Linked DNA regions of Homo sapiens: region 1 is linked to region 2. The links come from fine-mapping of genetic effects on gene expression. A gene starts in region 2. The other region holds a variant in brackets. All regions are shown on one strand. Distances are from middle to middle. Region 1 overlaps POC1A (POC1 centriolar protein A). Region 2 holds the start of PCBP4 (poly(rC) binding protein 4).

The links. PIP is the estimated chance that this variant, and not a neighbour inherited with it, causes the effect. A credible set is the group of variants that fine-mapping cannot tell apart.
Region 1: its variant is the best candidate, but not a certain one, in a credible set for the expression of PCBP4 in whole blood (TOPMed, PIP 0.60).

Annotation. Positions count from the first base shown.
Region 1 is chr3:52,114,860-52,119,263 of GRCh38, reverse strand. The region is part of intron 9 of POC1A (POC1 centriolar protein A); the gene reads left to right. Among named protein-coding and RNA genes, the nearest start is that of POC1A, 37 kb to the left of the region's middle. The variant C/T (reference allele first, on the strand shown) is at 1,996.
Region 2 is chr3:51,965,212-51,969,565 of GRCh38, reverse strand. It overlaps PCBP4 (poly(rC) binding protein 4), which reads left to right and starts at 2,112. Exons shown (of 14, transcript NM_001174100.2): 1 at 2,112-2,240. ABHD14B (abhydrolase domain containing 14B) reads left to right here. Exons shown (of 4, transcript NM_001146314.2): 4 at 1-1,051. The coding sequence ends at 140. RefSeq lists enhancers at 456-1,017, 1,018-1,581, 2,708-3,269, 3,270-3,833 and silencers at 1,543-1,622, 1,653-1,932, 1,943-2,052, 2,153-2,422.

The DNA of each region.
Region 1 (4,404 bases), 150 kb before region 2:
GTGTCTGGAGATGGGGCTGTCTTAGCAGTGGGAGGAGCACGGGGATGAGGTGGGAGAGGCCCTGGGCATGCGGACGAGGACTATTCCAGCAGCCTTGAGTGTGAGGACTCTGTTCAACTGGGCCAGATTTGGGCTTCCACCAGCAGCAGCAATAGTGGCCCAGGTGTCTCAGCCTGGGTTTCTAACAGAAGTCATTTTGTAGGAATCTCATTTGGTCGCAGTCTTCTGGAGGTGATGGTAAACAACCAAAAAAAAAAAACCTTTTGCCTTTAGCAACTACTTGGTTTTCTTCACTTAAAAATTGGAGAGTGTTTTTGCCTTTCCTGACTAAAGGTTTTCCTGGCTCTGGGAGAATATCTGGTCAGTGGTTTGGTGGCTGACCAGTGTGGCTCGACTTCTCAAAGAGCTCATGGGCACCATAGCCATGCCCCAAGAACTCATGAATCTAATGATCCTCTGCCTACATCAGCTCTGTCTGCACCCTGGGCCTCAGGCCCTGAAGCCTTGTGAAATACTCCTGGGCATTTGGGGAATCTAGGAAGCCCATCGGGCAGGTGTAGGTGTTGAATTCCTCACCATGTCCCCATTCCAGCGTAGCAGTCGAAAGCCAGAGGGGCAGACCCTGCATGGACCCCTTACTTTACTTACCCACTAGCAGACCACGGCAAGGGCAGCCCTGTGAGCCTATGATGGTCCTTCTGCCCAGGAAAACCCCCTGCCCATGACCCTTTCTCTGACTGCAGTACTTCAGCTCTCAGATCTTGGAATGAAGGTTGTCCTTGAGCCCACTCTGAATAGAGCTCTGTTCACTGCAGAGCTATTTTCAACCTCTGGTTGAAATTCACAGCTTATTTTTAGGCACATTTCATGTTGAAAAGCAAAAGCCATTTCCCAGCCATTCAGAATGAGAATAATGGGTTCCATTTTCCCTCTATTCTTGGCTGAGTTGTGCATGAGGAGGGATTTCAGGGCTTGTGGCTGGGGAACCTTCTCTACTTAGAAGGTTGCAGATGAAGGATTCCAGGCCATGCTCTGGGCTGAGGGTGGACAGAAGCTCCATGTTCAGCCTTGTGACATGCTACAAGGCTGGGGGAAGGTTGGAAGAGCCACTTGCAGGCAAATGAGCACCTCCCAGAGGGGCTTGAGGGTGGGCAAGGGATGGGAGCCCCTGGGAATTGTCTGCATTGGGTGCCCGTGCTCGTGTTTTCAAGGGTCTAGTGCTTAGCTCTGTTCCTGCCACAGCCCTGGCCCCTCTATTCTTGTCCACCCTCTTGCTGTCTGTTCTTTGGGGCCTGACCCCGAGGCATAAAGACCCCTGTATCTTGGCTGATCTTGAATTTAACACCTCCCAAACCCCTGCCACTATAGGACGGACTTCTGCTCAACCACAGAAGCATTTTTTAACCACTTTTTAAATAGCAAAAATGCATTTGCTTGATTGACTTATTTTTGCCCTCCTTCCAAATGTCTGAGGGCCCATTATGCAATGGGGAAGAAAGGTTGCGCTGGGTGGGGTGGGAGGAGAACACAGAGTTCTAGGTAATTCAGTGAAACGGGAGGAAAAAAAAACCCACTTTCTGAGTTCTAAGGGTTGGCTGCTGTCCGGTTCACACATTAACCTTGAGTTCTAGGGCTGAGTGCTTTTCTCCACTCACCTCTCAAGATCTCATTTTAAGGAGGAAAGCTCATCTGTGGTTAAGAGCCTGGGTTCTAGCTTCCAGCCAACCTGTGATTAAATCCTTTCTCTACCCTGCCTGGGGTGTGGTCCTAGGAAAGTGGCCAGACGTCTGTGAGGCACGGTTTTCTCTTCTGTCGTTTGGGGAGAGGCTGGGCCCTCCTTCGTGGGATTTCATGCGTGGTGCATCTGCCTGGCACATGACAAGTGCTCATCAAGCTTTAGCTATTTTTTTTGAGTCAGGGTCTCACTCTGTCACCCAGGCTGAACTACAGTGGCGCAATTGTGGCTCACTGCAGCTTCAACCTCCCAGGCTGAAG[C/T]GATCCTCCTGTCTCAGCCTCCTGAGTAGCTGGGACTATAGGCGTGTGCCCCCACACCCAGCTAATTTTTTTTTTTTTTTTGAGACAGAGTCTTGTGCTGTCACCCAGGCTGGAGTGCAGTGGCACAATCTTGGCTCACTATAATCTCTGCCTCCTGGATTCAAGAGATTCTTGTGCCTCAGCCTCCCGAGTAGCTGGGAATACAAGCGTGCACCTCCACGCCTGGCTAAATTTTGTATTTTTAGTAGAGATGGGATTTCACCATGTTGGCCAGGCTGGTCTCGAACTCGAGAGCTCAGGTGATCCACCTGCGTTGGCCTCCCAAAGGGCTAGGATTACAGGTGTGAGCCACCGCACCTGGCCTAATTTTTTAAATTTTTTGTAGAGAAAGGGTCTCCCTGTCTTGTCTAGGCTGGTCTCAAATTCCTGGGCTCAAGCAGTTCTCCTGCCTCTGCCTCCCAAAGCATTGGGATTATAGGTGTGAACTACCACGCCTGCCCCACCAAGCTTTAGCTACTTTAAAAAGGGTTCTTTTCCCCTCCCTGACTGAAAGCCAATCCAGGAGATTATGTGTTCAAAACTTGCTGGGGTGAGGGACAGTGGGCAATAATGGGAGCACTTATAATTTTCCACGTTGACCCCTCTCTGCAGGTCATCGTAGTGAGGGCCAGTGAGGTTTCTAGACCCTTGCAGGCATCAAAATTGTGTTTCCTGATGGCAGACCCAAGTCCCCTGTGCTCCCAGATGAGAGAGCAGATCTGTGAGTGGGTGGAAACAGACTTGTCCTTCTGCCACAGGATTCCTCAGGACAAGATGCCCAGGATCCCCAGAGCCTCAGTGCTTGAACTGTCCTCTGGAAGAGGGAGCTGGGTCAGTTGAGAACATCTGAACTGAGCCTCATCCGTGCCGAAGGATGGTCTATTTCTTCTTCCTAGTTCCTCTGATACTGAGAGTAAAGCACCAGCCACCTCCTGTGCTTGTCCTTAACCTCCCACATTTCCATTTTTGGGGCACTGCCACAGGGGTGGGCTTCACTTAGGGATTTGTGGGACCCTGATTCCTGGCCCAGAGATTCTTGGCACTAGATCTTCCCTTATGCTTTGGATCTGGGGGTCCTGGGTGCCTGTGGATTTTTAAGATCTGGGTTCTCACTCCAGGTGCCTTGCCTGAGGAATTAGAGAGTTGGAGAAACAGGGAGAGGAGACCCATTTCCACCTCATCTGCCTCATAGATTTTTTAAAATTATTTGTATACATTTCAGAAGTACAAGTGCAGTTTTGTTACCTGGTATATTGTGTAGGGGTGAAGTCTGGGCTTTTAGTGTAATCATCACCCAAATAATGTACATTATACTGGTTAAGTATTTTCTCATCCCTTGCCTCATAGATTATGTGTTAGTCTGCTCAGGATGCTATAACAAAATACCATAGACTAGGTAGATTATAAATATAGAAATTTTATTTCTCACAGTTCTGGAGGCTGGGAAGTCCAAGCAAAGCACCAACGGGTTTAGTGTCTGGTGAGGGTTTGTTTTCTGCTTCATAGATGGCTCCTTCTCACTGTGTCCTCGCGTGGTGGAAGGGGCTAGCTAGATCTCTGGGGTCTCTTTCATAAGGGCACTAATCCAAACCTGATGGCTCCACCCATATGACCTAATCACCTCCCAAAGGCCCCACCTCCTAATACTATTACTTTGGGGTTAGGATTTCAACACAGGAATTTTGGGGGACACTAGCCCTCAGACCTTGCAGCAGATTTGCTTCTCATTTGGGAGGACTTGGGTCGCTTAATGAGAACACAGATTTATGGTTTGGCATTCACTTTCTGTAGAGGGGAGAAGTGTGGGTTCAACGGATTCTTAGCAAGAGCGGTGTTGTAGGTGTTTGGAGCAGGAGTGAACCCCAGATTTATATGTCTTAGAGAAGAGCCTCTCCCTTCTCCACTTGACCCCAATCCTGGCACCTAATTTTTTCAAGACCATTAAGGTTGGTAGGATGCAGTGACTCACGCCTGTAATCTTAGCACTTTGGGAGGCTGAGGCAAGAGGCTGGCTTGAGCCCAGGAGTTCAAGACCAGCCTGGGTAAAGTAGTGAGACCCCCATCTCTTAAAAAAAAAAAATACTATTAAAGGGAACTGTTGGCTTCCTGCCTGCTGCAGGCAAGTCAGAAGATGCCCAGGCAAGTTACCCAACTTGGAAAAGGCATGGCTTCATGGAGCCCAAACCCCCGACGCCTCAAGCTGCCCGTGCCCTTGGGCTCAGGGCATCTCTGGGGGTCAAGATGTGCCTGTTAATGTGTTGTGGCTCTCACTTTGCTCACACCCTTTGGCTGAATAGCTGGCATTGCCCACAGTCCTTTTTATCGGTGTGAATGAGAGCTTGATGGAAATGGCAAAGCAGACCCTCTTCT
Region 2 (4,354 bases):
GTCAGACCAGCTTTGAGCACCTGAAGCAGCTGCCCAACCACCGGGTGCTGATCATGAAGGGGGCGGGGCACCCCTGTTACCTGGACAAACCAGAGGAGTGGCATACAGGGCTGCTGGACTTCCTGCAGGGGCTCCAGTGAAGCCCAGCACTGCTGCAGGGGGTGGGCTGCCTGCCTGCTCTGAGCTCTCTCTTGCACGCTCTCTCTTCTCTCCCAGGCTCTGGCTCATGCACATGCAACAGGTGCGTCTGTCTATATGTCTGGGTTCTTGTCTTTTGTGGTCTGTTTGTCTTTTCTACCTCTTTCTCTTGCAGTGATAGACTGAGGGGGTAAAATCAAGAGAAAAAACTCTCAGGAATCAAGGAACATAATCCTGTGGAGGGTAATCCATTACATGAGCTTCTCCTGTTCTTCCACTTTCCTGCCTGGCTTTCACTCCTTCCCCTGCTCTGCCCAGCCTTTCCCTCCCACCCACTCCTCCTTCTGCAAATGCCCTGAAGGCCAGCCCTTACCCCAACACCCACTTCCCCACCTCCTTAGGCCCCAGATACATACATGCCCACATGCACGCTTACATGTTTAGAGCCATCCTTGTTTCCAAATATGACCCTTCGCTTGAGGGCAACTGCATAGGTACATCTAACTCTGGACTGGCATGCACATTGTCATGTGCAGCTTTGCATATACACACATGCATACATGAGCCTCCACACAAGCACTTGCACACATGTGGACTCCTAACCATGCTAACCTCACTGGCTGGGAAGGTGGGGACCCCATGGGCCAGCCCTTGCAGGAGGCCCTTTTGCAAGGCTTAGGGTGTGGCCAGCCCTGAAAGCTACTTGGACACAGGTTTCAGCTGGCCCCAGCCCAGAAGTGACCCCCAGAAAGGGAGGGCCACCGCTTTGCCCCCTGCTTTTACCCTTCCTTCTGGGTGCTCTACACCTCAGGTTACCAGGCCTGAGGCATCTCAGCCAAGCTTGTTTCCTGCTCTGAGGCTTGTGGGGTGGGAGCCAGAGTGGAGGTCGGTGAAATAAAGTGATGCAATTAGACCCCACCGGCTCCTGCTTCTAAAGAGCGCCGCCCCTCCCCCACCCCTGGGACCAACACTGTGGGCCCCTCCCCCACCCCGGCGGGACCAGATGGTCCCCCTGCCCTTTGTCCACCAGGCCAGATGGAGAGGAAGGGAGATTGGATTCCCCTCCCCACCCACACATACCCAGGTGCCAAGAGACTCAGCTGTGGGGGGAGGTGGAGGTCAGTGGGACCAGGCTGAGCCGATTATGGAGGAGTGGGGGGGAAGGAATAGTTGCTTCCCCGAGGGCGGGGGGTGCCCAGCGGACTTGAGAACAGTTCATCACCCCCACTAGTATCCCTTCCCCAGTAAAAGACTCAACGGAGCCCGTTCCTTGCGACCCTATCCCCAAAAGGAATTCCGGGGGTAGATTTGGGGTTATCACAGGATCGGGTGCACAGGGCCACACGGCTCTCAGGCCCCTCCTCCAGCCTGTCCTGCGCGGACGAGGGCCGGGCCATGCAGCTGTGGGTGGCCGAGGAGAGCGGGTCTTGGTGGGCGCAAGCCCGAGCGGAGGATGGCGCGCAGCGAGCAGAGCCGGGAGCTAGGCGGGGCGCAGGGTCCCAGCCGGAGCTCGGAGGGACGCGGGCCGGGAGCGAGGCGGAGCCGGGGCTGGCGGGGCCAAGGCGGGGATGGGGGTGCAGGGGGCTCGGCAGAGGCGCCGGGCGGGCGGCCCGGGCCGGAAGGACTGGCCTGGCGGGAGCGGAGGGGCTTGGAGCCGGGCGCAGCGCGGGCGGTGCGGGGAAGGCCGTGGCTGGGGACCGGGCTTCAGGCCGGACGCCCCTACCCCCAACCCGTGGGGCTCTGGGAGTGGCAGGGGAAGGGTCGCCCGAGCCCTCCAGGAAGCGGCCGCCGCTCGGGGCGCACCGCGGCGCGCGGGGCGGGGCGGGCGGCTGCGGCACTGGGGCGGCTGGGGCGGGCCCGCCGCTCTGTAATCGGATCCGGGGAGGGGGCGGGGAGGGGCCGGGCCGGGCGGGCCGGGGGGTGGGGGGGGGGCGCGGAGCCGGGCTCCGGGCCGGCCGGGCTCCGCGCCTGTCAAACCCCTCATTGTTCGCAGCTGATGTCACTCGCAGTTGTGAGCGGCCGCCTCTCCCGGGGACAATGTGGGACTGAGCGGCCCAGCCGCCGTGCCGCCGCCGCCGCCGCCGCAGGACAGCCCCAGCGAGGTAGGGCGCGGGCCGGGCGGGGCACGGCGGGCCGCGAAGTTTGGGGGTTCGCCCGGGGGCAGGGAGCCCGCGCCCAGATCCCTCGGTTGGGGTCGCAGGTTTGTGAGACTGCGAGGAACACGTTCTCTGTCCCACACCGCTGAGGCCTGCACAGGTGGGAGGCGCTGGTCTGCCAGAGGCGCCCTTGGCACCAGGGAGGGGCTTCCTGGACCTTAGATCCCAGATTTGAGGCCCCCATCCCACTCGCTGTTTCTGTCCTTTGCGCCTGCTCCTCTCTCTGACTCCTGCCCTGGGTTCTGGTTCTGCTCCATCTCTGCCCTCACTTGCCACTCCCCTGTAGCTCCTGGCTGGGCACACACTCCTTCCCATCCTCCGCAGTCGTTGGGGGAGCCAGATACAGACCTCCAGGCCAGGGGTGTATGGAGATGACAGCTGGGGGCTCAGAGTGGTCCCTCTTGCCCCATAGCTCTTCAGCCCTTCAGCTCTGACCTAGCTTCTTGGCTGGGGTCCTGGGGGGTGGGGGTGGGAGGCTCTGCTACTCACTTCAGCCTGGCCCTCATGCCTGCCTGGCCAGGAGAGGGAGGTGCCCGCCTCCTCTCTCCCCTATCCCTGGCCCGCCATCTTGAGACCTGTGGCACCCAGTGCCCCACCCGGCCCCAGCACCCAGGGGAGTGGTCTCCAAGGTGATGATGCACCCAGGGCCAGTTGCATTCCTTTCTCCCCACCAAGCCCAGGATGCTCATGTTCGTGCTGAACCAGCAGGACATGTGTCCCCAGGGGCTTGCCTTCCGCCACAAAGGCTCTTACAATCCATGAACTCCCTAGGAGCTGAGCTCCTGCCCTCCCTGTTCCCTGGGTCACCCTCATTGCCTCAGGACCAGTACCTGGGACCCTATTCTTTCCCCATCTGAAAAAATCCCCTGGTCTTCCCAGGTCCTGGAGCCCCCTCAACCTCCAGGGCACCCCCATCCCAGCCCCCACCCCCTAGCCTTCATCAGCATGCAGGCTCAGGCTGCCCAAACACAAGGGGATTGTTCTTCTTGCATGCTCAGGGTGGGGGGCTGGGAGCAGGCAGCCCACACACCCTGGCAGGCCCAGGCCACGAGGAGGCTGGCTTGCCCCACCCTGTGTCCCCAGACAGGCTGTCCACCCTCCCTACTCCCATCACTGCTGCCCCTCCAGCCTCCATCACCATTGCCCAGTGGCGCTGACATCTTGAGGAAAGAGCTCTGAGCTGCACAGGTAGACCCCTGGGTTCTCCAGCTCTGCCAGTTGTCTCCCATGTAGCCTTACAAACATTTCCCTTCCTCTCTGGGCCGCGAGCCCCTCTTGTGATTGGTAAGACCTTTCCAGCTGTGACAGGCTGAGCCCAACTCGACTCTGTGAAACGTACCCCACCCCCCAGCCCTTCTTCCAGTCCCCCTCTTCCATGAGGAGACCCACTCTGCTCCCACCCTCTGAAAACCTAAAGCACAGCCCAAATCCCCCACCCCAGCAGCATACCTAGGGAGCTCCTAGTCCTGGTAAAACGGCAGGAGTAGGGCTGGGGATGCTGAGAAAGGAACCAGGAATCCTGTCCAGGCAGGTCCTACCTCTGCCCATGTGGCTGGCCCTCATGTCTGGGTCTTCTCACTCTACTCTCATTACTCCTCCGGGACCCTCAGCCCCATCTTTGGTTCCAAATGTCCCCAGGCCCCATGAACCTTAACTCTTCTCCCTGCACACTGACCCTGGTCTTGTCTCAAATTTCCTCTTTCTGGAGCTCTGTGTATAGTGGAAAGACAGGCTCAGAAATGCCCAGCGGGGACTTCTTTGAGTTGCAGCAACATCTTTGAGGGGCACAGAGGCCTGAGTGATCACATCTGACTTGGAAGCCTGCGGAGGGCTTCACAGAGGAGGTGGCGTTTGAGAAGGATTTTGACAGAGAGTGGGGAGGATGGGCGTTTTGAGCTGAGGTAAGCCTGGAGAAAGGCCCGAAGGGCTGGAGGTGCTAAGTGTGTTCTGCAGCCTGGCATGTGTGAAGGATGGGGTGGAGATGAGACAAGAGAGACAGGGGCTGGATCATGAAGGTCCTTGATGGCCTGTCTGTGGAGTTCAGGCTTTATTCTTTGGGG